Homo sapiens: one gene and its partners. The protein of the gene in region 1 purifies or fractionates together with the protein of each later gene. This does not show direct contact. Each region holds a gene or a part of one and is shown in the gene's direction. Other genes may lie near its edges.

What was found.
Region 2: the proteins of NOL12 (region 1) and MRPS9 purify together in Homo sapiens (affinity purification with mass spectrometry; 4 studies listed by BioGRID and IntAct, with this or other methods). This does not show direct contact.
Region 3: the proteins of NOL12 (region 1) and ZNF668 purify together in Homo sapiens (affinity purification with mass spectrometry; 3 studies listed by BioGRID and IntAct, with this or other methods). This does not show direct contact.
Region 4: the proteins of NOL12 (region 1) and SRSF12 purify together in Homo sapiens (affinity purification with mass spectrometry; 3 studies listed by BioGRID and IntAct, with this or other methods). This does not show direct contact.

The regions. Positions count from the first base shown.
Region 1 is NC_000022.11:37,681,927-37,689,842, forward strand, and holds the start of NOL12 (nucleolar protein 12), read left to right. Parts: upstream 1-4,416; 5' UTR 4,417-4,466; coding exon 4,467-4,549; intron 4,550-5,983; coding exon 5,984-6,089; intron 6,090-6,385; coding exon 6,386-6,434; intron 6,435-6,923; coding exon 6,924-7,066; intron 7,067-7,916. UniProt on the Homo sapiens protein: Multifunctional RNA binding protein that plays a role in RNA metabolism and DNA maintenance. Participates in the resolution of DNA stress and the maintenance of genome integrity by localizing to sites of DNA insults.
Region 2 is NC_000002.12:105,089,781-105,097,390, forward strand, and holds part of MRPS9 (small ribosomal subunit protein uS9m), read left to right. Parts: exon of another isoform or gene 1-139; coding exon 140-215; intron 216-2,620; coding exon 2,621-2,789; intron 2,790-3,749; coding exon 3,750-3,858; intron 3,859-7,271; exon of another isoform or gene 7,272-7,374; coding exon 7,375-7,544; exon of another isoform or gene 7,545-7,610.
Region 3 is NC_000016.10:31,063,702-31,071,311, reverse strand, and holds part of ZNF668 (zinc finger protein 668), read left to right. Parts: intron 1-6,282; exon of another isoform or gene 6,283-6,512; intron 6,513-6,626; exon of another isoform or gene 6,627-6,693; coding exon of another isoform or gene 6,694-6,740; intron 6,741-6,830; coding exon of another isoform or gene 6,831-6,852; coding exon 6,853-7,499; intron 7,500-7,610. UniProt on the Homo sapiens protein: May be involved in transcriptional regulation. May play a role in DNA repair process.
Region 4 is NC_000006.12:89,107,542-89,115,151, reverse strand, and holds part of SRSF12 (serine/arginine-rich splicing factor 12), read left to right. Parts: intron 1-7,610. UniProt on the Homo sapiens protein: Splicing factor that seems to antagonize SR proteins in pre-mRNA splicing regulation.

The DNA.
Region 1 (7,916 bases):
CCGGCTCAGCGTCAGACAGACCTGTGTTTAAACCCCAGCTCTGTGGCTGTGTGCCCTTGGACCAGTTATTCAACGTCTCTGAACCTCAGTTTCCTCATCTGGCAAACTTTGTTAAGACTGCACTAGTTGGCCAGGCACGCTGGCCCACGCCTGTAATCCCAGCACTTTGGGAGGCCGAGGTGGGTGGATGACCTAAGGTCAGGAGTTCGAGACCAGCCCGGGCAACATGGCGAAACCCCGTCTCTACTAAAAATACAAAAATTAGGCCGGGCATGGTGGCTCACGTCTGTAAATCCCAGCACTTTGGGAGGCCGAGGCGGGTGGATCACCTGAGGTCGGGAGTTCGAGACCAGCCTGACCAACATGGAGAAACCCCGTCTCTACTAAAAATATAAAAAATTAGCCGGGCATGGTGGTGCATGCCTGTAATCCCAGCTACTTGGTAGGCTGAGGCAGGAGAATGGCGTGAACCCGGGAGGCGGAGCTTGCAGTGAGCCGAGATCCCGCCACTGCACTCCAGCCTGGGCGACAGAGCGAGACTCCGTCTCAAAAAAAAAAAAAAAAAAAAAATTAGCCGGGCGCAGTGGCGCGTGCCTGTAATCCCAGCTACTCAAGAGGCTAAGGCAGGAGAATCGCCTGAGCCCGGAAGGCAGAGGTTGCAGTGAGCCGATATTGCGCCATTGCACTCCAGCCTGGGTGACAGAGCGAGACTCCATCTCAAAAAAAAAAAAAGACTGCACTAGTATTGGCTGGGTGTGGTGGGTCACACCCGTAATCCCAGCACTTTGGGAGGCTGAGGCAGGAGATTCATTTGAGGTCAGGAGTTTGAGACCAGCCTGGCCAACAAGTGAAACCCCGTCTTTACTAAAAATACAAAAATTAGCCGGGCATGGTGGTGCATGCCTGTAGTCCCAGCTACTGGGGAGGCTGAGGCAGGAAAATCACTTGATCCCGGGAAGAGGAGGTTGCAGTGAACCGAGATCATGCCACTGCATTCCAGCCTGGGCGACACAGCAAGACTCCGTCTCAAAAAAAAAAAAAAAAAAAAAAGATTAGCTGAGGTGATGTATAGAAATGCATGGTGCCTGGCACGCAATAGGGGCTCGGTGAGTGTTGGTTCCCTTCACCCCTTTTAAGGCTTGGTGTGTCCCAAGGGCCTAGGAAACTAGGTCCAGATAAGTTAAGTCAATCTCTGTCCTTAGGCCACCTGCGCCCCACCCTCAGCACCTGTTTTTGCCTGTGTGACCTCAGACAAGTGACTGCACCTCTCTGAGCCTCAGTTTCCTCCTCAGTAAAATGTGGATTGTACCTCAAAAGAGATCATCATAAGCCAGGCACAGTGGTGGGCACCTGTGGTTCCAGCTACTCCTGAAGCTGAATGGGGAGGATCGCTTGAGCCCAGGAGTTTGAGACCAGCTTGGGCAACATAGTGAGACCCTCATCTCTATAAATAAATAAATAAATAAATAATAAAATCAATAATCTAAAGAGAGTAAAGAGCTAAATAAATGTCAGCTGCTCTTGTTACTCTTTTTCCTCATTAAGTTTATCATCACTTCTTTTCTTATTGTTTTTGTTTTTTGTTTTGAGACAGAGTTTTGCTCTTTTGACCAGGCTAGAGTGAAGTGGCGGGATCTCGGCTCACTGCAACCTCTGTCTCCTGGGTTCAAGTGATTACTCGAGTAGCTCAGCCTCTCGAGTAGCTGGGATTACAGGCATGCACCACCACGCCCGGCTAATTGTCATATTTTTAATAGAGATGGGGTTTCATCATGTTGGTCAGGCTGGTCTGGAACTCCGAACCTCAATTGATCCACCCACCTTGGCCTCCCAAAATGCTAGGATTACAGGCATGAGCCACTGCGCCTGGCCTGTTTTTTTTTTTTTTCTTTTTTTTTTTCAGAGATGGGGTCTCACTCTGTCACCCAGGGTGGAATGCAGTGGCATGATCACAGCTGCAGTGCAGCCTCAAACTTCTGAGCTTGAGTGATCCTCCCACCTCAGCCTCCCAAGTCGCTGGACTATAGGAGTATGTCACCACGCCTGGCTAATTTTTAATTTTTTGTAGAGACAGGGTCTTACTATGTTGCTCTACTGTCTGTCGCCAGGCTGGGGTGCAGCAGCGCAATCTCGGCTCACTGCAACCCTCCCGGGTTCAAGTGATTCTTCTGCCTCAGCCTCCCAAGTAGCTGGGACTACAGGCGTGTGCCACCATGCCCAGCTAATTTTTGTATTTTTAGTAGACATGGGGTTTCACCATGTTGGCCAGGATGGTCTCGATCTCTTGACCTCGTGATCCTCCCGCCTCAGCCTTCCAAAGTGCTGGGATTACAGGTGTGAGTCACCGCGCCCGGCTTGAGCCTTCACTTTTCATCTCCAACCACTCTGGGTGGGAGTGGAGCCCTGGCAAACCAAGCAGGTCGAAGCCTGGGACTGGGAGGAGACAGACCAGCTGCAGAAGGTGACTCTCTGGGCACCTTCAGCCAGGGTGATGCCTCTACCCAGGAAGGTGCCAAGGGTGGCTTTAAGGCACTGCCACTAAGGGGCAGAAGCAGCTGGTCAGAGGTGCAGTCCAGCACCCTAAGGGAGCCCCCTGCATTGCTCTGGGCCACAGAACTGAAAGGCCAGGCCTGTAGTTTAAGGGTAACTTCCAGCTGGGCGCGGTGGCTCACGCCTGTAATCCCAGCACTTTGGGAGGCCGAGGTGGGTGGATCACCTGAGGTCAGGAGTTTGAGACCAGCCTGACCAACACGGAGAAACCCCATCTCTACTAAAAATACAAAATTAGCCGGGCATGGTGGCACATGCCTATAATCCCAGCTACTAGGGAGGCTAAGGAAGGAGAATCGCTTGAACCTGGGAGGCGGAGGTTGCAGTGAGCCGAGATCGTGCCATTGCACTCCAGCCTGGGCAACAAGAGTGAAACTCCGTCTCAAAAAAAAAAAGGTAACTTCCTCTCAGGATCCCACATAGATTTCCCAAGCAGAGGAGCTGTATGGAATGAATTCAGCATTCTGGAGTGCTGCACTTACTGCCTGCCTCCTTCCAAAACTCAGAGTCAGGGTACAAAGATCAGCTGGGCGTGCTGGCAGGTGCCAGTAATCCTAGCTACTCAGGAGGCTGAGGCAGGAGAATTGCTTGAACCTGGGAGGCGGAGACTGCAGTGAGCCGAGATCACAACACTGCACTCCAGCCTGGGTGACAAGAGCGAAACTCTGTCTCAGAAAAAAAAAAAAAAAAAGCGGATGAAGGATTCTGGCATACAATCCAAGTGACTAAAAATCCCCTTCAGGCGTTGTTTCACTGCAATCTTTCACAACCATGCCCTCATTCTCAGTCAAGGATGTTATTATACACTCATTCCACCTTTGGGCAAAGTGAGGCACAAAGAGGGAAGATGGCTTGTGCAGAAAACACATGTATGCGTGCCTTATGTTAGACAAACTTTACATAATTAACTTCCTCACAATCACAGCTGTCAAGGTTTAGTCCACGGACCAGCAGCATTAGCATCACCTGAGAACCTGCTAGAAACGGAAATCCACTCAGAAACCTCTATCGGATCAGAAACTCCGGGGTGGGGCCCAGCGATCCAGGTTTTTAGCCCTCTAGGGGATTCTGATGTATGCCAAAGTTCCAGAACCAGTGTCTACAACAACCCTACGAAGCTACTATACTTTCCCTTATTTTACAAATAGGGTGAGGCACCGCGAAGACCATTGGTCTGGGACCACACAGCTGTAGGTGTGATGCCAGTATACAAATCCAGGCAGTTTGGCTCCCTCTTGGAGACTACCAACGAGTTGACATCAGCATCTAAAGTAGGGGCCAGCACGGTGGCTCACGCCTGTAATCCCGGCACTTTGGGAGGCCGAGATGGGAGGACCACTTGCGGTCAGGAGTTCAAGCAGTCTGGTCAACATGGTGAAAACTTGTCTCTACTAAAAATGCAAAAATTAGGGAGTATGGTGGCGCACACCTGTAATCCCAGTTACTCAGGAGGCTGAGGCGGAGAATTGCTTGAACCTGGGAGGCAGGGATTGCAATGAACCGACATCCGCCACTGAACTCCAGCCTGGACGACAGAGCGAGACTCCATCTCAAAAGCAATAATAATAAATTAAAGGAAAAAAATATCCAAAGTAGGGTTAGTACAGGAAATTTGGGCCATTCACGAGTAACTCCATATTGAGTGTGTGCCAGGCACAGTCCTAGGCAGTGGGGTCCAGGGGACCTCGCTCTCATTGAAGCGAGGCTGGGGAGGGGCTGGAGCTGGGAGTCACGGAGAGATCAGGGACCAGCGCGTCATGCATGGGAAGAGGGAAGAAAAGGAGCTGGGAGGTCCCTTTAAAAGGCTGGGCCTGGTGGACGGAACTTCGGTGCGACGCTAAAGTGTGCGCCCGGGAGGATGAGTACGCTACACCCGGAAGTGTCTTCAGGGAGAGGAAGCCGGCGGCCTCACTGCTATGGGCCGCAACAAGAAGAAGAAGCGAGATGGTGACGACCGGCGGCCGAGGCTCGTTCTTAGCTTCGACGAGGAGAAGAGGCGGTGAGTGGCAAAGCCGGACCGGACTCCCCTCGAGCTGTTCTTCGCGGCCAAGGCCAGGTCTGGGGCCGAGCACGCTCCCGCCGGGGGCTCTTCCGGTCCCGCCCCCTGGCGTGGCTAGAGAACCCCTCTCGGCCTTCCAGCCCGCGTTCCCGCTTCTCCCTTCTCGGCCGCCACCTTCTCCCTTCTTGACCTCCCCACCTCGCCTAGTGTCTGTGCGCCGCCAGATAGCCGGAAGCTCGGGTCTCAGAGCAGTGGCTTCGACCACCCTAGCCCAGCCCAGTCCATCGGTCCGGCACACAGCAGGCGCCCAGCCGTGGTTGATAAATGATGAGCCAATGAAATGAGAGTGGCTTAAGTTCATTCATTCGCTCCCTAGACATTTATTGGGCTCCTTTGGTGTGCCAGGTCCCGTATCAGGAAGCAGAACCTCTGAGCCTCAGCGTCTGGCCAGATAAATAAATGGCACATGGTAGCGGGTCAGCGAAAAGCCCAGTGCTGGACCGTGGGACAAAATGGGAACAGAGCAGCTAGCACTGTGGAGATGAGAAGGGGCTGAGATTAGACCGAGGGAAGGAGGTAGGGAAATGCTGGGCATCATCAGGAAACTCCTAGCGTGCATCAACAGGCCCTACAGGCGAGTTTAGGGTCAGGTGTCCTGGGGACATGGGTGTTGGTCCAGTGCAGGGTTTCCGAAGGTCTGGATGGTGGTGGCCCTGAAAACCCTGTTGAGAGAGTAATGAGGTTTGTAGGTGTGGAAGGGGTTACCTCATGTACTGTGTGTGGCCCCCCCCCCCACCCGCCCCACAGCCTGGCCCTGTTGCCTGAACCTGAGATCCCTGGAGAGTATTGAGTGGAAAGAGGCAGTATCTCCCTTATTTTCCTAAATGTATCCTTTCTCTAACCTTGGGCAAGTAACCTAGACTCTGTGACTCAACGTTCCCATCTGTAAAATGGAGATTGATACCCACCGCACAGGTTATTGTGAGGGTTTTTTGTTTGTTTTTGAGATGGAGTCTGTGTCGTCCAGGCTGGAGTGCAGTGGCATGATCTCGGCTCACTGCAACCTCCGCCTCCCAGGTTCAAGCAATTCTCCCCGCTCAGCCTCCCAAGTAGCTGGGACTGCAGGCATGCGCCACCAAGCCCAGCTAATTTTTGTGTTTTTAGTAGACACGGAGTTTCACCATGTTTGCCAGGCTGGTCTTGAACTCCTGGCGTCATGTGATCTTCCCACCTCGACCTTCCAAAGTACTGGGATTACAGGCGTGAGCCACCATGCCTGGCCATTGTTGTGAAGGTTAAATGAGCTAATACTTACACTTTTTTGGAATGGTGCCTAGCACATAGTGAGCGCGGCATTAGCCATTTTTCTCCTAGAGCGAGCCCTTCTCTCCTTGTATAATGACTCTCCTGTCTCTGCCGGCTTCCTTCCTGTAGGGAGTACCTGACAGGCTTCCACAAGCGGAAGGTCGAGCGAAAGAAGGCAGCCATTGAGGAGATTAAGCAGCGGCTGAAAGAGGAGCAGAGGAAGCTTCGGGAGGAGGTACGCAGGGGGAAGGTGGGAGGGAGGTCTTTGATTCTTAGGGCACTTGCAGCCTTGGATTTCCCTAATAGAGGCAGCTGCTGGCATGGGGCGATGTGTGTGTGGGCAGGACTGGGGAATAGTTTATACAGGTGGAGACTCTGTGGGCCCGGGTCTGGGAGTGATGGAAGATGGAGTCTCCTCCTGATCTTGCAGTATGGATCATGGTCTCCCTCACCCTGGGGGTGATTAATACCCCAGCCTGAGGTTGGACTGAGAGGCCATACTCACTGTGTTCCCTGCCTGTGTGGTTTCAGCGCCACCAGGAATACTTGAAGATGCTGGCAGAGAGAGAAGAGGCTCTGGGTAAGTGGCATGCTTGGCCTGACCTGGAGAACAGCTGATGGGCCTGGTTTATACCCTTGGTGGGTGGAAGGGATAGAAGCTGACCTCCTTGGCCCTAGGGATCTTGGGGGGTACCCTGGGGCCAGGGGTGGTCCTAAGCACCTCTAAGTGCAAGTGGAACAGAGACCAGGAGAAGGAGTCCCAAACCCCATGGTTAACCAAGCCTGAGAAGAGAGCCCAGTTTTTAAGGATGGAAAGGACTAGGGGTGGAGGGGAGGGACAGCAGTAGCTGTCACAGAGGGTTTGTCTGACATGGGGACCAGCTAGAGCATGAAGGAAACGGGATCATTCACAACATTCATCCACAGACCAGGCTCTACAGCCAGTGACCTTGTGGATGCGCTCCACGTCCACAGAGTAGAGGGGGCACTGCACTCCAGGGCGGGAGGGAGGCTGGAGCCTGGTCACTCGTTCCCGTGACTGAGACCAGGTCTGTGTCCACCCCCACAGAGGAGGCAGATGAGCTGGACCGGTTGGTGACAGCAAAGACGGAGTCGGTGCAGTATGACCACCCCAACCACACAGTCACCGTGACCACCATCAGTGACCTGGACCTCTCGGGGGCCCGGCTGCTCGGGCTGACCCCACCTGAGGTGGGTCCCAGTCTCAGCCCTGGGAGGAAGGGGCGTGGGGGCAGACCAGCTTGTCAGGGTTGCTCAGTGCTGGCCCATGTCATGGGTATCCCACTGCCAGCCCTGGGAAGAAGGGGCGTGGGGGCAGACTGGCTTGTCGGGGTTGCTCAGTGCTGGCCCATGTTGTGGGTACCCCACTGCTGGGGCTCCTTCCCTTTGGACCCTTCATTCCCTGCTTCCGGGGTGCTGCAAAGACCAGCCCCACTGCTGAGCGGCTGAGGAGCTTGGGCAGGCTCCTTCACCTTGCCTGCTTCCCTTTCTCCATCAGTGAACTGGGGGTTGCTGATGGTGGCACCTGCCTTGTGGGATTGGTATGAGGGTGAAAGTGGTTAATCCATGTGAGTCACCTGGCACAGTGCCCAGCCCTGTCATAAGTGCTTCACAAAAGGTAGCCGTTTGTTGTGATCGTTCCCTTTGTGCGATTCGCAGCCCTGGCACGTCTGTGTGCACTAAGTGGGTTTTCAACCTGTGGGTTGTGAATCATGAGTAGGTTGCAATCAGCATAAAAAAAAAATATAATTGAAAATATCCGAAAGTGTCATGTTAAATATTGTTTCATGAGACAGCTGTTTCCACTGGAGTTGTATCTGGGTGTGCCTAAGGATTTATGGACATATATGCACACAATTACGATATAAAACACATTTCCTTGTGTGGGTTACTGTGTTCTTAAGTCCTGGAGCCACTCCCCTATCACATCCATACTGATCTCAGGGCCAGGCATGGTGGCTCACGCCTGTAATCCCGGCATTTTGGGAGGCCAAGGCGGGCGTTATCACCTGGGGTCAGGAGTTTGAGACCAGCCTGGCCA
Region 2 (7,610 bases), on another chromosome or scaffold:
TTAGTTGGGTAAAATTACTGCTATATAATATAAAAACTGATTTTCAAATCATAAAATTGCTACTATATGTGGGATCTTTTGTGATATAACTCTAATTGCATGGCTAATTAAAAAGAGAATATATGTGATATTTTAACAGAGACGTGATTGGCAGCAGATGGCTGATTAAGGAGGAACTAGAAGAAATGTTAGTGGAAAAACTGTCAGATCTAGATGTGAGTAATTAATCTTTTTAATTTAAGGGGACCTATGCAATAAGAATACAGACAATTGCTGTATTTAGGATCCTAATAGTAATGTTCCTCAGAGGCAGGTGTTCCTACGATGACTTTTCTTTCTTTCTTTAAAAACAAAACAAAACAAAACAAAAAAACAAAACACATTCATCATTGATTTCTGCCTTGGGAGGACCTTATTTGTGGTCAGGGAGGTGACTTGTCGAGTCTCCAAGTCCTCCTCTTGTAAGTGCCCTCATATCCTGTGCCAGTTGTTTTAGGGAAGCACGGCAGATGTTGTTTCATCTCCTTACGTAAGGCCAGTAGCTAATTTTACAAGCTGATGATAAGTGTAAGGAGTCATTATAGGTTAAGTAGAAAAGGGATGCAGCACATGGTTACCTTCATGCAGTTTACTGCTTACCTTGTGTGCCATATCTGTAAGGTCAGTGGTTTTTATCTTGGGATCTGCAAACCACCTCTGTCGGAATCCCTTGAAATGCTGGTTACAAACTACAGTGTCCTAAGCCTCACCCTAGATCTAGCTCAGAATCTCTAGGGAGTTACCGAGGAATCTTTTTAACCAACTTTCCAGGCGAATCTTATACCCTATAAAGTTTGTGACCCCCTGCTTTAGGTCTTAATTGCATTCTTATTTTGTTAAATGTTCTAATATATCAACATTTTCACAGGACAGTTGATGTCTTAAACATTTTGATGTTCCAAATTTATTACTTTCTGGAAGATTGGGGTGTAGATAAATTTCACAAATTTTTCCAAGATGGAGATTTTCTTTGATGGCGGTGGCTAACATTGTTAGTACTTTGCCACCATATATAGATTTTAAGTCATGTACTTGAATTGTTCTTTTTCTCATTTAATGTATTATAGAAATTAATGATTTGGAAAAGTTGCAGTTTGCTTAAACAAAGTGTCAGACAATTGGTTAGTGGTAGATCCAGAGTTAATTTCTAATATCCTAACTGCCAAGTACTGCTCTACTTGAATCTAACTGAAAAATCTCTTTGCTTCTTCACTGAACAAGTAATTTCATTATTTCCTCTGTTTCTGGCTGCTTTGATTTTTTTTTAATAATTCAGGTATTTTTTCTGCTTTGTAATATCCCACGGACTTTAATACAGGTGTACAGCTATGAAAACAAAAGAAACAAGTTATATATGATACTTTGTACTTTGGGGTACTGGATATCAGAAGAAATCCTAATGTTTATGGCTGGTATCAAGATGAGGGATGTGGAGGTGGTCAGTGACTTCTTGACCTAGTTCAGAAGCAAGGCTGAGTTCCACCCATAGTGCCCCTTTGTAGGTGCAGAAGTCATTGAGAGTCTGTGAGATGCAATCAAGAGAGTAGCTGAGCACAGAACGCCCAGGCCAGTGACTGGAGAGGAGCATGGAGCTCTGCCCACCCAATATCCTAGGTAGCTGAGTATTTCACCCTTACTAGAAGAGTGCCTTCTCTTTCATTACATCATAGGAAGCTGTAGTCAAAGTAGTTCTTTTAATATTAATCTTACTGGTGAGATTTTTAAAAATTTCAAACTATTAATGGCAGATTTTTACAATAAAGGCAGTAGTGACAAAGATGAGTGTGATGTTTAACGCCGACAAAAAACATAAATAAGGTTATAAAAAACTGAGTTTCACAATCCATATTAACTAAGAATCTCAAGCATTAGTTGTTTCCTTCTCCATAAACACTTTAGAGTGATTATTCTGGCTTCTAATTTTAAGGGGTTAATTCCAAGTTGTTTACTTTCTAATCACATGTTCAAGAACTATTAAAAAAAATGCACAGAGGAGCAAGGATAATTTATTTCAAGAGGTTGCCCTTTAAGTCAAGTATCTCTTGAATTTTTAAATAGCTTGATTGTTCGGTTTTAAAGGAAATCATAAACATTAAAGTAACACAGCTTGAACAGCCAAAGATATATTTGCCAAATGTATTATGAAATATAATTTAAGAGGTACATTTTCTCAAAATCAAACTCTTTCCATATTACTATACATAACTTACTTGAAATTATTTATAAAGCTCCCCTTGATACAGTTCTAATAAAAGAGAGCAAATTACACTTGAAGATCATCTAAATACTTTTTGAAAGTGAATTTAAATCTCAATTTCATAAACATAATACAGAGAAATTGATTTTTCTTTGAATGATAAATCTCTTTGTTTCTTGAAAGAAAAGATTTGGCACTAAAGATACGCAGGAAAAGTGATGCATCTGCATGCTGTTTTAAAAGCAGCGTGAAGATGCAGAAGTGTCATCCTGTCAAAATTCATCAGGAAAAGCAACATTGGAAAGATCAAGTATGCAAAAAATAGAAAAAATTTAGCAAATGCAATTACACTTGCACCTTCTAATGAATTTTTATTGTCTGCAGTATATGCAGTTCATTCGGCTGCTAGAAAAGTTATTGACATCGCAGTGTGGTGCTGCTGAGGAAGAATTTGTGCAGAGGTTTCGAAGAAGTGTAACTCTTGAATCAAAAAAACAGCTGATTGAACCTGTACAGTATGATGAGCAAGGAATGGCCTTTAGCAAAAGTGAAGGTAATGACATTCTGTGGAGAGAAAATAAATTCAGTGAAGGTTGAAAAACTACAATTATTTTTATTTGCTATTGCTTTCTGGTATCCATTAGATTTTTTATTTGTTTATTTTTGCTACCGTTACTTTGGATTTCCTAATTTTTAAGATTCTGTTGAAGTTTTTCAAAACTGAACTGTATAATATCCTAAGAAAAAAATGTGGATGCATACCTATACAGTCATATTAACACTTTTTCTTTTCACACATTTATATTGTTGAATCTTTTAATTTTCACATTTTAAGCTGCTAGAATCGGTAAAATATTTATAATAAAGTTTTCTTTGCAAAAAATGAAAATGCTCAATGAATCTGCATATCAAATGCCAAAACTATGTAATGTGAAAACTTCACGTCCTTAACTCACATTTTTCTTGTTCAGAGCCATTAGACGTAGTCCAACTTTTACGACTTGAACTATTAAAATATTTACAACTCTTAAAAGATTTCACGTCATTGTCATTTTTAACTACTGTGGTGTTTTCAAAGAAATGTGACCTTTCCTGAGTATTTTTTTATTTCTACTAGTTATATTTCATCATACTATTTATATATTTCTAAAACTTATGTTGTTAGATATATTCTTACTGTTTATAAAAGAAGAATGCTATGTAAATTGGTTGTGGATTCTCGTAAGGGAAATGAATATAAATTACTTTGTTGGTTGTTCAAACTAATTTAAAATCATTGTAGTGTTTCTAAAATGGAATTGAAGAACAAAATTACCCCACAATGAGCTTTATTGCATCTGTTGTGCTGTAGTTTACCTGCTTTATTTTTGTTTGACTTGAAATAATAGTTATAGGACTTGCTTATGTACAGTGTTGTGTATTATTTTGGGGAAACAAATTTTAATGTAGTTTTACCTGTCTCAAAGCGCAGGTCTTCAAGATATTTACTAATAGGAATTTTATATTTTTGAAGGTAAAAGAAAGACTGCAAAAGCAGAAGCAATTGTTTATAAACATGGAAGTGGAAGAATAAAAGTAAATGGAATTGATTACCAGCTTTACTTCCCGATCACACAGGACAGGTTCGTTTTGGGTTCTGATTTTTTGTTTTTAAAGGAAACATACTTTATAATACATCATGATCATTTAAGAAGGCTTGTGATCTTCTAATTCTGTTTATCTGAATGATTATTTCTCTTTACCAATGTAACATATCAAACTAGCTAATTGAAGCTATTTTTTAAAGCAGCTTCCAGATTTTTTAAAAAGCATCTCTAGAATTCCTCATTAATTGACTCTTCTTCCCCTTTTCATCAGATCCTACTGCAGTTTGAGTAGTCTTAGATGTAGCTTATGTTCTGAAGTGCAGACTGTGCCAAAATGTAAAAAATTTTGATTTAGATTTCCACCTTCTAGTTTGGGGATGGGCGTGCACAAAACAAAACCACCACCACAACAACCAGCCTTGGCACTTAAAACTGACCTAACTCACAAGGCAAAGAAAAGTGCAAGTAATTTCTTGTGGCTTGTGTATGTTTTTCTGATCATAAATATTAGAAAAATTCTGCTTTATCATTTTGGATTTTTTCCTATTCAGAGGAATGTGATTATATATATTGAGCAAGCAAAGAAACCTAGCATTTATGGGTTAAAATAAGAACTCATCAGGCTTTGCTTAGTTCTGGGTGCTAAATATGGCAGTTTTAATTTTTAAACTTTGTATCCTATGGAGAAATAGACATTAATCATAAATAGATACTACAGCTCTTCTAATCTAAATATACTCATCTCAGAACTCTCTCTGACTTGCTATATAAAGGCCTCTTCTTGATATGGTTATTATTTTCCCAGTACTTACTGTCATTATCCACGAGTAACAGAAGTTTGGTATGATTAGTTCCTCCTTTCCTAATCCTTCTCCTGTTTCCTGCATGTGTTACGGTATTTAAGGTCAAAAGGGCTAAAACTCTTTTGATACCAATGCTGATATAGGCAAAAGAGGACCCTCCTAATACAGTGTAAGCTTCTGGACACAATAATTATTTTAGGAAATGTGTGTTTATTTTATTTGTGTGTGCCTGTGTCAACAAGCAGTGCATTCTTAACTCCATTTAAGATGAATTAGTTCTGCTATTATCCTCACAGGACAGGGGATGGAAGAAGCTTTTATTTCCCTTAGGAAAAGCCAGAGAGAAACCCATACCCCAGGGTTTGATAACTTCAACATTGGGAACTATAGGAGGACTGTTCTTTAACCAATAACCTGTCTGTTGATTTGTATTCAGACATAACTCCTGATGATTTAACAGCAAGTCTCAATTCTGGCTTGATCTCATAATGAAATTACATCTTTAGATCTTATTCTTTGGTTTGAATTCAGCAGCTTTTTACTAAGGACATCTATGTCTCCAGTCTTGTTCTGGGCATTGTGAAGATATCAGAGATATTTAAGATATGATTCCTATTGTCAAGAAACTTCCTACATGGTTGGGAAGCCTAAGCCTAGTCTTGGTGGGAATGGGCACCTACAACTATTTTAAAGTAGTTGTAAGGATTTAGGGCAGTCACTTCAGGAACTTACAAATCAGCAGTGAGGTGACCATTGACTAATAGGAAGACTAACCAACCCAGAATCAGGGATCTTGATCGGAATTCTGTCATCACCTAACACACAGTGAAGTGGGTTAGCCACGTAAGTGAAGTTACAAGGGAGGCTTCTGGACAGCCATTTGTTTGGGAGCTTAAACACTTTCCTGGCTTAATTTTTAAAATTTTATGATTCTTTAACAAATGCTTATATAAATAAAAAGAGACTTCAATTAAAATCTAGAAAAATAGATTTCATAATGTAATTACTGGATATATAACTGAGTCATGGAGCCAGATGGTCGAGGTAAATGCAATAGTGGAATTAGATTTTCAGTCTGTACATTTTTTTTTTCTTTTTTTTTTTTTTTTGAGATGGAGTTTCGCTCTTGTTGCCCAGGCTGGAGTACAGTGGTGCAATCTTGGCTCACCACAACCTCCGCCTCCTGGGTTCAAGCAATTCTCCTGCCTCAGCCTCCTGAGTAGCTGGGATTACAGGCATGCACCACCATGCCTGGCTAGTTTTGTATTTTTAGTAGAGACGGCGTTTCTCCATGTTGGTCAGACTGGTCTCAAACTCCCGACCTCAGGTGATCTGCCCGCCTCGGCCTCCCAAAGTGCTGGGATTACAGGCATGAGCCACTGCGCCCAGCCTAAATTTTCTTTTATATTTACTTTTTTTTTTTAAGAGACAAGGTCTCTTTATGTCACCCAGGCTGGACTCAAACTTCTGGACCCAGACTGGACTCAAGCTGCTGGGCTCAAGCAGTCCTCCCACCTCAGCCTCCTGAGTAGCTTGTACTTTAGGTGCTCAGCTTAAATTTTCTTTAGTTATCATAGTATATTAATAGATACTACTTATAATACTGTTTTTATAACTTATGGCTACTTTTCATTTGGTTTCTTGGAAGCATTTGTTCAAAAAGACAGTATAGATTTATGAGTTTTTTGTTGTTGTAGGAGTTATGTCATCCCTACATCGTATTGTTATAAATTCCGATTTGCTATGGCTTTTGAAAGTCATCTTTTGCCCATCTGCTTGTGATTATTTTACTAGTGTGGTATGAAGAATAGCACTTGAATGTCCTGTCCATACCTGTCTCTCAGCTTAACTGTGTTATATAAACTTGATTTTGGGTCTAGAAGCTACAGCATCAAAGAAAGCAAACGCAATATAAGTGAGCTTTTCTGCATAAAAGTGTAGCAAGATATTAAGGCAAAATAGCAAAATCAAAGTGCTTGACAGAGGTAATGGTGAACATCTTACCTGGCGTGAAAATGATATTCAACAAATACTTGTTCAGTTGAGCAGGAGAAAGTCCAGGGCCGTGTTTTGTCTGTGGTGCCTGCCCCAGGATCTTGTAGGCCCTGACCGACCCTGAAAGAGCAGGCCTGACAGGGGTTGTGTAGAATGTCACCTGGCCCCAGGAAGGTAGCAGGACCCTATGATTTAGAGAACTTTAAGAATATTGGGAATAGGTGTTTGGTGTCAGGGAAGTGCAAGGTCGAAAATAGTTTTAGAAACTTTAAAAACTAACCATATCAAGATGAGCATTATACATTATACAGATACACTTATAGTAGACTTTATTTAGTGAATCCAAATGACATGTGATAATTGTTTGGAAAGGCCTATTGATTTTATATCTGATCATTCAATCCAGAGACATTAAATTCAGTTGATTAATGGAGTTCCCCAACTGTAAGACTTCTTTACGAGATTATTTTCAAGCTTTGAAAAGATCTTCTGAGATAAAGGGGATCAGCAAACAGTAAGAGTGTGTTGCTATACCCAAGCAAAAGAAATAAATCTTAATCTCTCAGCAAATCATTCAAAATGTCAGAAATGTTAGTGTTTCTATATCTTGGTAAAATGGATTGATTGAGAAGTATGAAAAGTATAACAGTGGCATGCAGAATATTGTTTTTATGAATATTCAGAATTTCAGTTGTTTACATAATTATGTATCTTTATAGTAAACGTAACCACATTTACTTGTGCTGTGCTTTAGAGAACAGCTGATGTTCCCTTTCCACTTTGTTGACCGGCTGGGAAAGCACGACGTGACCTGCACAGTCTCAGGGGGCGGGAGGTCAGCGCAGGCTGGAGCAATACGACTGGCAATGGCAAAAGCCTTGTGCAGCTTTGTCACCGAGGACGAGGTCGAGTGGATGAGACAAGGTATGAGTCTAGGTGGGACGGGCATGGTGGCCCAATACTGGCTATACATGTTCATCTGCTTCTTGT
Region 3 (7,610 bases), on another chromosome or scaffold:
GCCTGTAGTCCCAGCTACTCGGGAGGCTGAGGCTGGAGAATCACTTGAATCCGGGAGGTGGAGGCTGCAGTGAGCTGAGATGCAGCCACTGCACTCCAGCCTGGGCAACAAAGACTTTCTCTCAAAGAAAATAAATAAATAAAAATGAAATAAATAGGCCGGGCATGGTGGCTCAAGCCTGTAATCCCAGCACTTTGGGAGGCCAAGGTGGGTGGATCACCTGAGGTCAGGAGTTCCAGACCAGCCTAGCCAACATGGCCATCTCTACTAAAAATACAAAAAATTAGCTGGCTGTGGTGGCAGGCACCTGTAATCCCAAATACTTGGGAGGCTGAGGCAGAAGAATTGCTTGAACCCAGGAGGCAGAGGTCGCAGTGAACTGACATCACACCATTGCACTCCAGCCTGGGCAACAGAGGGAGACTCTGTCTCAAATAATAATAACAATAAATAATAAAATAAATAAAAATAAGCCAGGCACGGTGGCTCATGCCTGTAATCCCAGCACTCTGGGAAGCCGAGGCAGTGGATCATCTGAGGTCAGGAGTTCGAGACCAGCCTGGCCAACATGGTGAAACTCCATCTCTACTAAAAATACAAAAAATTAACCAGGCGTGGTGGTGGATGCCTGTAATTCCAGCTACTCGGGAGGCTGAGGCAGGAAAATCTCGTGAACCGGGGAGGCGGAGGTTGGAGTGAGCAGAGATGGTGCCATTGCACTCCAGCCTTGGCAACAAGAGTGAAACTCTGTCTCAAAAATAAATATATAAATAAAAATAAAAACATTTTTTAAAAAGTAAAGAGGGCTGGGTGCGGTGGCTCATGCCTGTAATCCAAGCACTTTGGGAAGCCAAGGTGGGTGGATCACTTGAGGTCAGGAGTTCAAGACCAGCCTGGCCAACATGGTGAAATCCTCTCTCTACTAAAAATACAAAAATGAGCCAGATGTAGTGGCGGGCGCCTATAATTCCAGCTACTCGGGAAGCTGAGGCAGGAGAACCGCTTGAACCCGGGAGGCGGAGGTTGCAGTGAGCAGATATTGTGCCATTGCACTCCAGCCTGGGGGACAGAGTAAGACTCCGTCTCAAAAAAAGGGCCGGGCGCGGTGGCTCACACCTGTAATCCCAGCACTCTGGGAGGCCGAGGCGGGCGGATCACGAGGTCAATAGATCGAGACCATCCTGGCCAACATGGTGAAACCCCATCTCTACTAAAAATACAAAAATTAGCCGGGATTGGGCCGGGTGCAGTGGCTCACGCCTGTAATCCCAGCACTCTGGGAGGCCGAGGCAGGTGGATCACGAGGTCAGGAGATTGAGACCATCCTGGCTAACACAGTGAGACCCTGTCTCTACTAAAAATACAAAAAATTAGCCGGGCGTGGTGGCGGGCACCTGTAGTCCCAGCTACTCAGGAGGCTAAGGCAGGAGAATGGCATGAACCCGGGAGGCGGAGCTTGCAGTGAGCCAGGATTGTGCCACTGCACTCCAGCCTGGGTGACGGAGTGAGACTCCGTCTCAAAAAAAAAAAAAAAAAAAAAATAGCCGGGCGTGGTGGCGGGCACCTGTAGTCCCAGCTACTTAGGAGGCTGAGGCAGGAGAACTGCTTGATAGATAATCATGAGATTCCGTCAAAAAATAATAATAATAATAAAGAGTAGATAGAGAATGATTATCAGGGGTAAAGATAGCATTGAGAAAGGTAGTCATTCAGTGCTCCTTGGTTGGTTAAAAAAGGAAAAAATTTGGAATATTAAAAGGGGGGAAGAAAAGGAAAGGTGGTCAAGAAAGCTCTTTTTGAGGAGGTGACTGGGAGCTGAGATCCAAATAACACCAAAAAAGACAGCTACACAAAGATCGTGGGAGAAGAGTGGCTCAGACAGAGGGAACTGCTAGTGCCACTGCCCTGAGGTGGGAAGGAATTTAGCTCTTTGAGGAGAAGAAAGGAGGCCTCTGTGGGTAGAGCCCAGTGGGCCAGGGAGAGGAGTGGGAGGTGAGGTAGGCAGGTGTGTGTGTGTGTGTGTGTGTGTGTGTGTGTGTGTGTATTTTTAGTAGAGATGGGGTTTCACCATGTTGGCCAGGCTGGTCTCAAACTCCTGGCCTCAAGTGATCTGCCCAGGTAGGCAGGATTTAGATGGTTTGGGGCTATGCTGGCCATGGAAAAGATATTGGTCTTTTTCCTGGGAGCAGTGGGAAGTCTCATGATTCAACCTGGGGGAGAGAATGGAGACTTGGGTTCGAGTCTGGCTCCTTGACCAGCTGTGTGTCCTTGTGTACAGTTTTTCCTTTGTGGGGACCTTAATCTCAATATCTGAAAAAGAGGTGTAGTGAACACTTAAAATGCTCCTCTCCTGAGAGCTCGTGGAGACCTAAGGATGTGTGTTTGGTTCTTAAGTATTGGTTGGGCAGGCACGGTGGCTCACGCCTGTAATCCCAGCACTTTGGGAGGCTGCGGTGGGAGGATCACTTGAGCCCAGGAGTTCTAGACCAGCCCAGGCAACATAGCAAGACTTCATCTCTACTAAAAATAAAATAAAAATTAGCCAGGCATGATGGTGCATGCCTGTAGTCCCAGCTACTTGGGAGGCTGAAGTGGGAGGATTGCTTGAGTCTGGGAAGTCAAGGCTGCAGTAAGCCATGACTGCACCACTGCACTCCAGCCTGAGCGACAGAGTGAGATCTTGTTTCAAAACCAAACAAACAAAAGTATTGGCTGGAATGATCCAGAGTGTATTTAAAATACAGATTCCTGAGGCCTACCTCAAGCTCTTTAATAAAAAAAAAAAAAAAAGTCTGGGCGTGGTGGCTCTCGCCTGTAATCCCAGCACTTTGGGAGGCCGAGGCGGTCGGATCACGAGGTCAGGAGATTGAGACCATCCTGGCTAACACAGTGAAACCCCGTCTCTACTAAAAATACAAAAAACTAGCCAGGTGTGGTGGCAGGTGCCTGTAGTCCCAGCTACTCAGGAGGCGGAGGTTGCAGTGAACCAAGATCGCGCCACTGCACTCCAGCCTGGGCAACAGAGTAAGACTCCATCTCAAAAATTATATATATATATATATATATATATATTTTTTTTTTTTTTTTTTTTAATGGTGGGATGTTAGACAGAGACCTAGCCTACCTGGCCTCTTTGTGTAGCTGGGCGCATGCTGAGACCAACCTGGCACTCCCCTACCTTTTCCCCTGGGAAGTGCCATGGGAGGAGGGATTTCCCCTCCAGCTACCTGGTGTCTAACTCACAGATAGGAAGGCTGAGACCCAGAGCTGGCAAGAGGCAGTAGAAGGGCCAGAGCTCAGAACCACTGGGTCAAGCCCTCTGAGAGGGAAGCAGAGACATAAAGGGTGCCGGCCAGGGTCTCAGGGCAGTTCTGCAAGGATGAGAGAAGACACAGGTATGACCTGAGCTCAGGGTTCTGGTCACTGTGGGGCTGGCGGAGGCAGCAGACAAGCGTAAGAGGCCCCAGACCACTGAGCAAGACCCCAGCAACTTAAGGCAAATTAAACACCTGGACTGAAGTCCCAGCTGCTTAGGTTACCCATTGTGGGACCATGGGCAAGTCACTTAACTCTTGGAACCTCGATTTATTCCTCTGTAAAGTAGGGACAAGAATCCCTATCTCAGAAAGGTATAAGACATTAAATTAAATAAACCAGCACACCCAGCAATGTGTCTGGCTCTAAGAAGACGCTTTGATAATTGAGGACAGTAATTATTTTTGACTCATTCATTCCTCACCCAACTCTGTCAGGTAAGTACTGTCATTATCTCCATTTTTCAGATTAGAAAACTGAGGTTCTAAGACATGCAGTACATTACACACGGTCACATCAGCTGGGAAGTGATGGAGGCAAAATCTGAAGCCAGACAGTTTGGCTTCAGGGACTGGGCACTTAACAAAATACTGAACCATTTCTCTGGACCTTGGTTCCCTTATCTGTGAAAATGGAATAATAGAACTTTCCTCATGGGGTTGCCATGAAGGGTAACTGAGCTAATACACATAAGGAGTTTAGGATACTGCCTGGTATTTGGCGAGTGCTCAGTAAATGTGAACTATCTTTTTTATCATTTATTTATTTATTTATTTTTGAGATGGGGTCTCACTCTGTTGCCAGGCTGGAGTGCAGTGGCACCATCTTGGCTTACTGCAACCTCAGTCTCCTTAGGCTCAAGCATTTCTCCTACCTCAGCCTTCTGGAGTAGCTGGGAGTACAGGCATGCTCCACCATGCCTGGCTAATTTTTGTATTTTTTGTAGAAATGGGATTTTGCTATATCGCCCAGGCTGGTCTTGAACTCCTGGGCTCAAGGGATCCACCCGCCTTGTCTTGAACTCCTGGGCTCAAGCGATCCACCCGCCTTGGTCTCCCAAAGTGCTAGTGTGAGCCACTGAACCTGGCCCAAGCTATCATTTTTATTAAGGAGGAACATTATCAGGCAGACTCTCCAGAAACCGTCTGGAAGAGGTAGTGAGTACCTCATCCAGAAATAGGGAGGGATCCCTTGGAAACTGTAGGAAGAATTCAAGTCATCAGAAAGGTTAGAATTCAGTCCCTTTAACTTATCTTCAAGCCCCAGGATTGATTATTGATTGATTGATTGATTGAGACAGTGTCTTGCCCTGTCTCCCAGGCTGGAGTGCAGTGGTACAGCCTTGAACTCCTGGGCTCAAGCAGTCCTCCCACCCCAGCCTCTCAAGTAGGCAGTACTACAGGCACATGCCACCACATCTGCTAATTTTTATTTTTAGTAGAGATGGGGTCTCACCAGGTTGCCCAGGCTGGAGCGCAGTGGTACGATCATAGTTCCCTGCAGCCTCGAACCCCTGGGTTCACAGGATCCTCCCGCCTCAGCCTCCCACGTAGCTGGGACTTAAGGCGCATGCCACCACACCTGGCTAAGCCCTAGGATTTAGTGGGAAAAGTGAAATAACCAAGTGAGAATAAGATGGAGTTTTGTGGGATTGGGGCCAAACCCAAAGGGGAGATGCTTGAGGATCCTCCTGGTGGAAGTGGGGCTCCAGTGAAGGACTTGTCAGATTTGGAACAAGCAGGAAGGACCTGGGGATTTGCATGGTGTGGTGGAAGCCATGGAAAGTTCTTGAGCAGGGAACAGGAAACATCATTCATTACTTTTGGGAGAAGACCGGCTGCATGGGGTTGGGGAGGGAGGGCAGCGTGCAGGCCTGAGGCCGGGATTTCAGGCAGAAGGGTGCTGACTTTAAGGATGTGGCCCTTGCCACGCGTCAGGGGCTCCTGTGTCCTCCCTGGGTCAACCAGGTAAGCTGCTTCTCCCGCCCTTTCCTGGCATAAGGGGCCCTGAGTCTCTGTATTTCCCCTAGCACCCTCGTGGCTCAGCTCAGTTTCCTCCTCCTGAACCCCAGTGTCATAACTTAGAAGCCACCAACCCCTAACGTGTCCAGATGAGGAAATAGTCTTTTTATTTTTTTTTTTTTGAGACGGAGTCTTGCTCTGTCGCCCAGGCTGGAGTGCGGTGGCACGATCTTGGCTCACTGCAAGCTCCGCCTCCCAGGTTCACACCATTCTCCTGCCTCAGCCTCCCGAGTAGCTGGGACTACAGGCGCCCGCCACCACGCCCGGCTAATTTTTTTGTATTTTCAGTAGAGACGGGGTTTCACTGTGTTAGCCAGGATGGTCTCGGTCTCCTGACCTCGTGATCCGCCCCCCTCGGCCTCCCAAAGTGCTGGGATTACAGGCGTGAGCCACCACGCCCAGCCGGGCGGAAATAGTCTTATAAACAACACTCATTTCACTGAGGTCTCATAGTAATCCACAGGGCTGCAAGTAGAACGTAGGCCCCCTAGCCTCTGGGCACACCTGGCTCCCTGCAGCCCCCACTCCTCAGACCCCTTCCCCCAGCAGCAGCTGCTGAGCACTCCTTAAGTGGATCTGCCATAATCCTCTTCCCTTCATCCCCCAGGGAGGATGAGCTGGTGTTAAGACTAATACAGCCATTAATCCTGTTTCCTCCCAACCATGATCCCCAGGAGCAGCTGGGTGGAGGGCGTCTGGGTTCTGGACCAGAAAGTAGGGATCTCAGCTAGAGCTGGTATCCCAGGAGGCCATGTTAGATCAGATACATCAGTTATGACTCAGAAAGAGGCTTCCAGCTGCTAGCAATGGCTCAGGCTGCCTTGAGTGATTCTCCATTACCAGAGTTGTGGGAACAGGCCAACAAGATTCCAGAGCAGAGAGTGGACAGATTCCAGTCTGGGGCGGAGGCCCGTACAGCTGTGCAAGGCCAGAATTCTGTGTGAACAGTTGCTGTCTCTGAGGACTAACCATCCAGAGGAGGAAAGAAAACACAAATGCTGGGGACCTGTCACTTCCAGACAGTGCCAGCTACCAGATTTAGCCCATTGGCTCAGCCCTTTTCTGGTCCCAGGTCTGTCTTTTCTGGGCGCTTGGAGACCTTCAGGCCAGGCCCACGTCTGGGTACACTCTTTATCCTGGCATAGTTCTTGGACACTGAGCTGAAGAAGGAAGATGGTGAGACAGATGGAACCTGGGCCTCTGGGAATGCCACAGTGTTTGGAAAAGCCCGTTGGGGGCGGGGGGGGACGTGTAGGTGAATCTTTTGTGACCCTCAGCCTCCTTTCTTAGTGGCTCTGCGGACACTTGGTCCAACTCCTTTCTTCAATGAGCAGATCAGGGAGGAAACGAACGCAGGATGTCAGAGCCAGGAATGCTGGGCAGGAAGGATGTGTGGGTTCCGAGGTGAGAAATGCAGATGAGATAGGGTTCTCTCTGAGGCTTTCAGGAGTGGCGAAGGTATGTGGCTTTGGTCTAACTTTGCTTCTCTTGCAGAGAAACCCCGTTCACCAAGGCCATGGAAGTGGAGGCTGCAGAGGCCCGGTCCCCAGCCCCCGGCTACAAGCGCTCGGGCCGCCGCTACAAGTGCCTGTCCTGTACCAAGACATTTCCAAACGCGCCCAGGGCAGCGCGCCACGCTGCCACACATGGGCCGGCAGACTGCTCTGAAGAGGTGGCCGAGGTGAAGCCAAAGCCAGAGACAGAAGCTAAGGCAGAGGAAGCCAGTGGGGAGAAGGTGTCAGGCTCCGCGGCCAAGCCTAGGCCCTATGCGTGTCCGCTATGCCCCAAGGCCTACAAGACGGCACCCGAGCTGCGCAGCCACGGGCGCAGCCACACGGGGGAGAAGCCCTTTCCGTGCCCCGAGTGCGGCCGCCGCTTCATGCAGCCCGTGTGCCTGCGCGTGCACCTGGCCTCGCACGCTGGCGAACTGCCCTTCCGCTGTGCGCACTGCCCGAAGGCCTATGGCGCGCTCTCCAAGCTCAAGATCCACCAGCGTGGCCACACAGGCGAGCGGCCTTACGCCTGCGCCGACTGCGGCAAGAGCTTTGCTGACCCTTCAGTGTTCCGCAAGCACCGGCGTACTCACGCTGGCCTGCGGCCCTACAGCTGTGAGCGTTGCGGCAAAGCCTATGCGGAGCTCAAGGACCTCCGCAACCATGAGCGGTGAGGGTGCCTTCCGGGGCAGGGCGCCTTCCGGGGCAGGGCGACAGCGTTGCTGCAGCCAATGGGGCCTGGGTTTGAGTCTCAGGGTAAAGTGAGCCAATGGGAAGGTGG
Region 4 (7,610 bases), on another chromosome or scaffold:
TACTCCAGCCTGGGTGACAGAGAGACCTTTAGAGAGTCTAAAAAAATAAAAGCTGTGGCCGGGCGTGGTGGCTCACGCCTATAATCCCAGCACTTTGGGAGGCCGAGGTGGGCAGATCACGAAATTAGGAGTTTGAGACCAGCCTGGCCAACATGGTAAAACACCGTCTCTACTAAAGATACAAAAAATTCACCAGGCATGGTGGTGCGTGCCTGTGATCCCAGCTACTCGGGAGGCGGAGACAGGAGAATCGCTTGAACCCGGGAGGTGGAGGTTGCAGTGAGCCGAGATAGTACCATTGCACTCCAGCCTGGGCGACAGGGCGAGACTCTGTCTCAAAAACTAAAAAAATAAAAGCAGTAAAATATTGGCAATTTCATATTTATACGCATTTTAAAAATGTTTAAACGTCATGCAGGCCAAATAAAACACATCTGCAGGTGACACCTGATCTCTGATCTATGTACTTCATTCACCAGTGAGTGATTGAGACTGATAGTTGAGATTGACTGATTTCCTTTTCCATTTTTTCACTTTTTTTTTTTTTTAGCTTTGCCACTGGCAGACAATCAAAATCTACAAGATTATATTACATGAATGAAATCTCTAACATTTGTTGAATACTCACTGTGTACTAGGTGCCATACTAAAAACATTACATATATTAAATTTTCGCAGTAACCCTATAATGTATGGTGGTTTTTTTGTTTGTTTGTTTTATTTTGAGACAGAGTCTTGCTGTGTCAGCCAGGCTGGAGTGCAGTGGCACGATCTCGGCTCACTGCAACCTCCGCCTCCTGGGCTCAAGCAGTTCTCCTGCCTCAGCCTCCCGAGTAGCTGGGATTACAGATGTGTGCCACCATGCCTGGCTAATTTTTGTATTTTTAGTAGAGACGGGGTTTCATCATGTTGGCCAGGCTGGTCTCGAACTCTTGATGTCAGGTAATCCGCCCACCTTGGCCTCCCAAAGCACTGGGATTACAGGCATGAGCCACTGCGCCTGGCCGTATGTTCTTTGTTAACCCCATTTTACCGATGAGAAATCAACGTTTAGGTTAAGTATTTTGCCTAAGATCGAATAGCAGGTGAGTGATGATATGAAATTAGAATCATCACATGTAATCTGTATTAACCTTTTAGTACAAAGTAGTATACAGTATAAGTTAACTAGCAATGTGACATGTAGACACTTTTAAAATTAGCTTTAAAGATAGGGCACAGTGGCTCATGCCTGTAATCCCAGCACATTTGGAGGCTGAGGTGGGTAGATCACTTAAGCTCAGGAGTTTGAAACCAGCCAGGGAAACATAGCAAAACCCTGTCTCACCAAAAAATACAAAAATTAGCCAGGTGTGGTAGTGCGCACCTGTAGTTCAGCTATTTGAGAGGCTGACGTGGGAGGATCGCCTGAGCCCAGGTGGTCGAGGCTGCAGTGAGTCAAGATGGCACCACTGCACTCCGGGGGTGAGAGTGAGACTCTGTCTCAAAAATAAATAAATAAATAGGCTTTAACATTTAGTATGCTTATAAACAAAATCTTTGGGGCCTGGCACGGTGGCTCACATCTATAATCCCAGCACTTTGGGAGGCCGAGGCACGTGGATCACTTGAGGTCAGGAGTTCGAGATGAGCCTGGCTAACATAGTGAAGCTCCATCTCTACTAATAATAGAAAAAATTGGGCTGGGTGCGGTGGCTCACGCCTATAATCCCAGCACTTTGGGAGGCCAAAGTGGGCGGATCACGAGGTCAGGAGTTCGAGACCAGCCTGGCCAATATGGTGAAACCCTGTGTCTACTAAAAATATAAAAATTAGCTGGGCGTGGTGGCACTCGCCTGTAGTCCCAGCTACTAGGGAGGCTGAGGCAGAAGAATCGCATGAACCTGGGAGGCAGAGGTTGCAGTGAGCCAATACCGGCCACTGCACTCCAGCCTGGGTGACAGAGTGAAATTGTGTCTCAAAAAAAAATAAATCATTGGGATAAAATGTTAAATAAAACATATGTAAAATTATATATGCAGCATGATTTCAGTTACAGTCATGCATCAGTTAAGGACAGAGATAGGTTCTGACAAATCCATTTGGTGATTTTGTTGTTGTACAAACCCAAACCTACTACACAGTAAAGCCAGCTACACACCTAGGCTATGTGGTGTGGCCCGTTGCTTCTAGGCTACATACCTGTACAGCATGTTACAATACTGAATACCGCAGGCAATTTTAAGACATTTACCTACATGTATCTAAACATAGAAAAGACACTAAAAATATGGTGTAAAAGATTTTTTAAAAGGTACACCTGTCTAGGACAGCTTTGTTATAAGATTATGGGGCCACCATGATATATATGGTTCATCATTGACTGAAACATTGTTATGTGGTGCATAACTATATTAAAAAATGAAAAAAGGAAAAAGCTATATATGGAAAATGAGACTAGGGCCAGGCTCAGTGGCTTATGCTTGTAATCCCAGTGCTTTGGGAGGCCAAGGCAGGAGGATCCCTTGAGGACAGGAGTTCAAGGCCAGCCTGGGCAACATAGCAAGGCCTCATCTCTACCAAAAAAAAAAAGTTAGCCGGGCATGGTGATGCGTGCCTGTAGTCCTAGGTACTGGAGTTCAAGGTTGGAGCAAGTTATGATATCACCACTGCACTGCAGCCTGGGCAACAGAGCGAGACCCTGTCTCCAAAAAAAAAAAAAAAAGAAAGAAAAGAAAATGAGACTAGAAAGAAATTAATTTGGACAGTAGGACTTACTTTTCTTCTTCCTTTTTTCAAATATTTTTCAAATTTTATTTACTAAGAATGTTTTAAAACAAAACAAATTTTTAAAAAATTAAAAGCAGAAGACACTAAAAGGCTTTGTGAATTAGTGTAAAATTTGACAGAAATGAAATTGAACACAAGAACTAAAGAAATTTTAAAAATAAGTTTTAGGCCGGGAGAGGTGGCTCATGCCTGTAATTCCAGCACTTTGGGAGGCCGAGGCGGGCGGTTCACCTGAGGATCCCAGCTACTCGGCAGGCTGAGTCATGAGAATCTCTTGAACCGGGGAGGAGGAGGTTGCAGTGAGCCGAGATCACGCCCTTGCACTCCAGCCTGGGCAACAGAGTGAGGCTCGGTCTCAAAATAAATAGTTTTAAAATTTGTGTTATGTTTCTTTTCACTGGTGAAACAAGATGTAGCTTAGGAAAAATAATATCTTTGCTTTTGTACTGCATAAAGGAATAATTTTTTAATGTTAAATATAGTGTATTAATGGAACTCCAGTCTAGGTGACAGAGTGAGACCTGAGACCCTGTCTCCAAAAACAAAAACACAACAAAACGTGTGAGCAAACTAGGAATAGAAGAGAACTTCTTAACCTAATAAATGTCAGCTATAAAAAACATAGCTAACATCATACTTAATGATGAAAGACAATGCTTTCCTTATAAAATCAGGAAAAAGAAAAGATTGCCACTCACAACCGCCAACGTTTTATTGCAGGTCCTAACCAGTGCAACAAGGCAAGAAAAAAGATATAAAATACAAAAATTGGAAAGATAAAAGTAACCATTCTTAGGTGACATATTTGCTTACATAGAAAATACTAGGGAATGAACAAAAAAACTGCTAGAACTAATAAGTTTAGTAAGTTATGAGGATATAAGGTAAATTTACAAAAACTTTATTTCTATATATTAACAGCAAACAATTGAAAACAATGACAATTTTAAAAAACAGTTGCATTTACCATAGCATCAAAAGGCATACTTACTTAGGAAAACAGTTAACAAAAAATGTGCAGAACCTTTGCACCAAAAACTACAACATATTTTCAAGAGGAATTTTAAAAGCTAGCATAACAAAACCCCATCTCTACTAATAATAGAATAAACAAGGTGTGCTGGCACATGCCTGTAATCCCAGCTACTTGGGAGGTTGAGGCACGAGAATAGCTTGAACCTGGGAAGTGGAGGCTGCAGTGACCCGAGATTGTGCCACAGTACTCCAGTCTGGGTGACAAAGCAAGATTCCATCTCCAAAAAAAAAAAAAAAAGACAAGTCTCACCCTGTCTTCCCAGACTGGAGTGCAGTAGCATGATCATAGCTCAGTGCAGTCTCAAACTCCTGGGCTCAAGTGATTCTTCTTCCTCAGCCTCCTAAGTAGCTGGGATTATAGACACCACGCCCAGCTAATTTTTTTTTATTTTTTGTAGAGATGGGGGTCTCACTATGTTGCTCAGGCTGATCTTGAACTCCTGGGCTCAAGTAGTCCTCCCACCTTGGCCTCCCAAACTGCTGGTATTGCAGGTATCAGCCACCATGCCTGGGCAACAGTGGGAATTCTAACACATGTTTTTGGAAATGTAAGTTGGTTGGGCCACTCTGAAGAACATGTAGTGAAGCTAAGGTAGGCATACCCTCCAGCCTACCAATTTCTTTGCTAGTGATACTGAAGCAGGAGAATAGGGTCTGGAGGCAGGGAACCTAAGGCCGATTCACAGTGACTTCCTAGAACTGAATCAAAAGGAGAACTCCACCTCTCTACACCCAAGTAACAAAAGGATCAGAGGCTACTCCCTTTGCACTGTATTACAGATAAAAAATGGAAAGTACCTCTGACTGGTCCCCTCCTACAACCAATCAGACTGGTCCCAGGCCAAGTCTTCATGTGTAACTTTGTAGCTTTGCTTCAGCCTCTAATTGGTCGCCTCCCTCCACCAGACTGGTGGTGGGCCAAGTCTTCATTTACATAGGGTGTAACCGAGTAACCAGTGGGAAACCTTAGAGGGTATTTAAACCCTAGAAAATTCTGTAACCAATGCACTTGAGTGGCTTGCTTGAGCCTGCTCCCACTCTGTGGAGTATCTTTTCATTTCAATAAATCTGTGCTTTCATTGCTTCATTTTTTCATTGCTTTGTGCATTTTGTCCAATTCTTTGTTAAAAATGCCAAGAACCTGGAGGACTCATAGGCAAGACCCTCCATTGGTAACAGAAGGATATAATATTTCTTTAAAAATACTGAAAATTATGGCAAGTATGTCAAATACGGAGAAAATAATTTTTTTTTTTTGAGACAGAGTCTTGCTCTGTTGCCCAGGCTGGAGTGCAGTGGCATGATCTTGGCTCACTGCAAGCTCCGCCTCCTGGGTTCACACCATTCTCCTGCCTCAGCCTCCTGAGTAGCTGGGACTACAGGCGCCCGCCACCACGCCCAGTTAATTTTTTGTATTTTTAGTAGAGATGGGGTTTCACCCTCTTAGCCAAGATGGTCTCGATCTCCTGACCTCGTAATCCGCCCACCTCGGCCTCCCAAAGTGCTGGGATTACAAGCGTGAGCCACCGCGCCCGGCCAGAAAATAAATCTTGTTGGTAGATACATGGGTGTTTATTATTCTCTGTACTTTTTTGAATATTGAAGTAGATCATACCAAAAGTGCAAAAATAAAACAACAGCTAACAGGTGAGGGAGTGGAGACAGTGAATGGGAATTGGCTCTTTTGAAAAGACCTGTTCCATCTGACTCCCATCACCCTTGGCTTCCAGACTCCAGACCTCTGTGGCACACAGTGCTGCAGCCTCCTCTTTTATATTATCTATGATCCCTTTCCTCTTAGCCACTACATTTGGTTGATGGGATTGGTTGTCTCAGAAGACCTTCATTTGAATCCTAGCTCTACTACTGGCTGTGTAGATCTCTGGGCAAGGTAACTTCTCTCACCCTCAGTCTCCTTAACTCTTAAATGGTAACAGTAATGTATTCTTTTTTCATTGATAGGCAAATATATATTGAGTACCTACTGTGTGCCCAGCAGCTACATTAGGTACAGAGATATGCTGGTGAAGACACCTGCTTTAGCAGTGATTCTTAACCTTCAGTCTCAGAATTGCCTGTGAAGTCCTGAAAAAATTAAACATAACTGGGCCTCACTATGGAAAACACTAATTAGGTCCAGAATTAATGCATCGGGTTGGGGTGCCTCTGTCTGTAACATCCCTTCACAGATGATTACAGTACTCAGGAGAGGTTGAGAATCTTTATGCCAGTCTATGGTCTGTGGGAGCAGGAATTGTGTTTTTCTTGTTTCTCATTATATTCCTAGAGCCTGGCACATGGTAGGTGCTCAATAAGTATTTGCTTAATTCTGAATAAGTAAAAGAAAAAAGACATTGTCACTGTCCTCAGAAACTAATAGTAAAACATGTTCTATGAGTGTTAAATGAAATAAAGTATGTCATAATGTTGACTGAGCTACTGGCAAAAAGTAGATGCTTAGTCAATTTTTGTTGAATCTTATATGTAATTTCTAAATCCCCATCTCTAGCCTTAGTCACTGGCTTCTAATAATTATATTAATACACACTAATTAATATGCATATAATCACAATTTTCTGTTGCTTATAGAACTCTTATCAGTGTTCTACCATCACCTCAAATACTGCATTTCTAAACCTGAAAGTTGCTTCTTTTGCCTCTTTTCTTCCTCCTTGATCTAGCTCTCTTCTAATTTTTGTCACTGACACCATCTTTTTTCCATTTGTCCAAGCTAGAAGCTTCTTAGTCATCTTTGAATCTTTATTTCTCCCGAGCCACATTTTATGATCATAGCTTGATGCTGAATCCCTATGATAGCACCATGAAGCAGTAGGGTGTAGTGGTTAAGATGGACCAGTATGAGACTGAAAATTTGATTTCTAGCTTTGTCACTTGCTGGCTCAGTGAGCTTAGATAGGTTACTCTGTCTGTATCACCTGTAATCTGCCTGTATTACCTGTAAATAACCTGAAATTCTGTCTGTATCACCCATAATCTGTCTGTATCATCTGTAAATAACCACAGGGAAATTGTAAGAATTAAGTGGTTGTAAGGTGAACACTGGCTAACATATAAATGCACTGTAACTGTTAGCTATTATTGCTAAATATTTTGTCTCTTCAGTTAAATTGTAGCTCCATGAAGATGAATATCATGCTGTTTCTTTTTTTTGGTACCCCTTCTGAAGCACCTAATCGCACTAGAAGGCACATAAGCAGGCTCGAAATACCTGTCAGATTTGGGAATACAGTAGTTACTTTGTTTTATGTTTAATATTAAAACATCCATTTTTCTTTAAAGCCTGATAAATAATTTTAGGACTTCTTTAGAATCTAATTCTTGCTATCTGAAAACAAGATTAACATAAACATGAAATTAAAGTGAAGCAAAATGAATGTGTTCTTAGTGAAACAATTACTTATTAGGTCTTATAATAACTTTCAGAGGTGGATATGCTGGGTCAGTGTTTCTGGAAATTAAGCATAACAACCACCTGGAGTGCTTGTAAAGATACAGATTTCCAGCCTCTAATCCATACTTCCTGAATCAGAACCTCCAAGAGAGGTCTGAGAATCTAGGGAGGTTTTTTTCGTGTTTTCTTTTTTTTTGAGACAGGGTCTCACTCTGTCACCCAGGCTGGATGGAGTGCAGTGGTGTGATCTTGGCTCACTGCAGCCTCAACCTCCCCATGCTCACTCAGGTGATTCTCCCGCCTCAGCCTCCCGAGTAGCTGGGACTACAGGCACACGCTACCACACCTGGCTGATTTTTGTATTTTTTTGTAGAGACGGGGTTTCACCATGTTG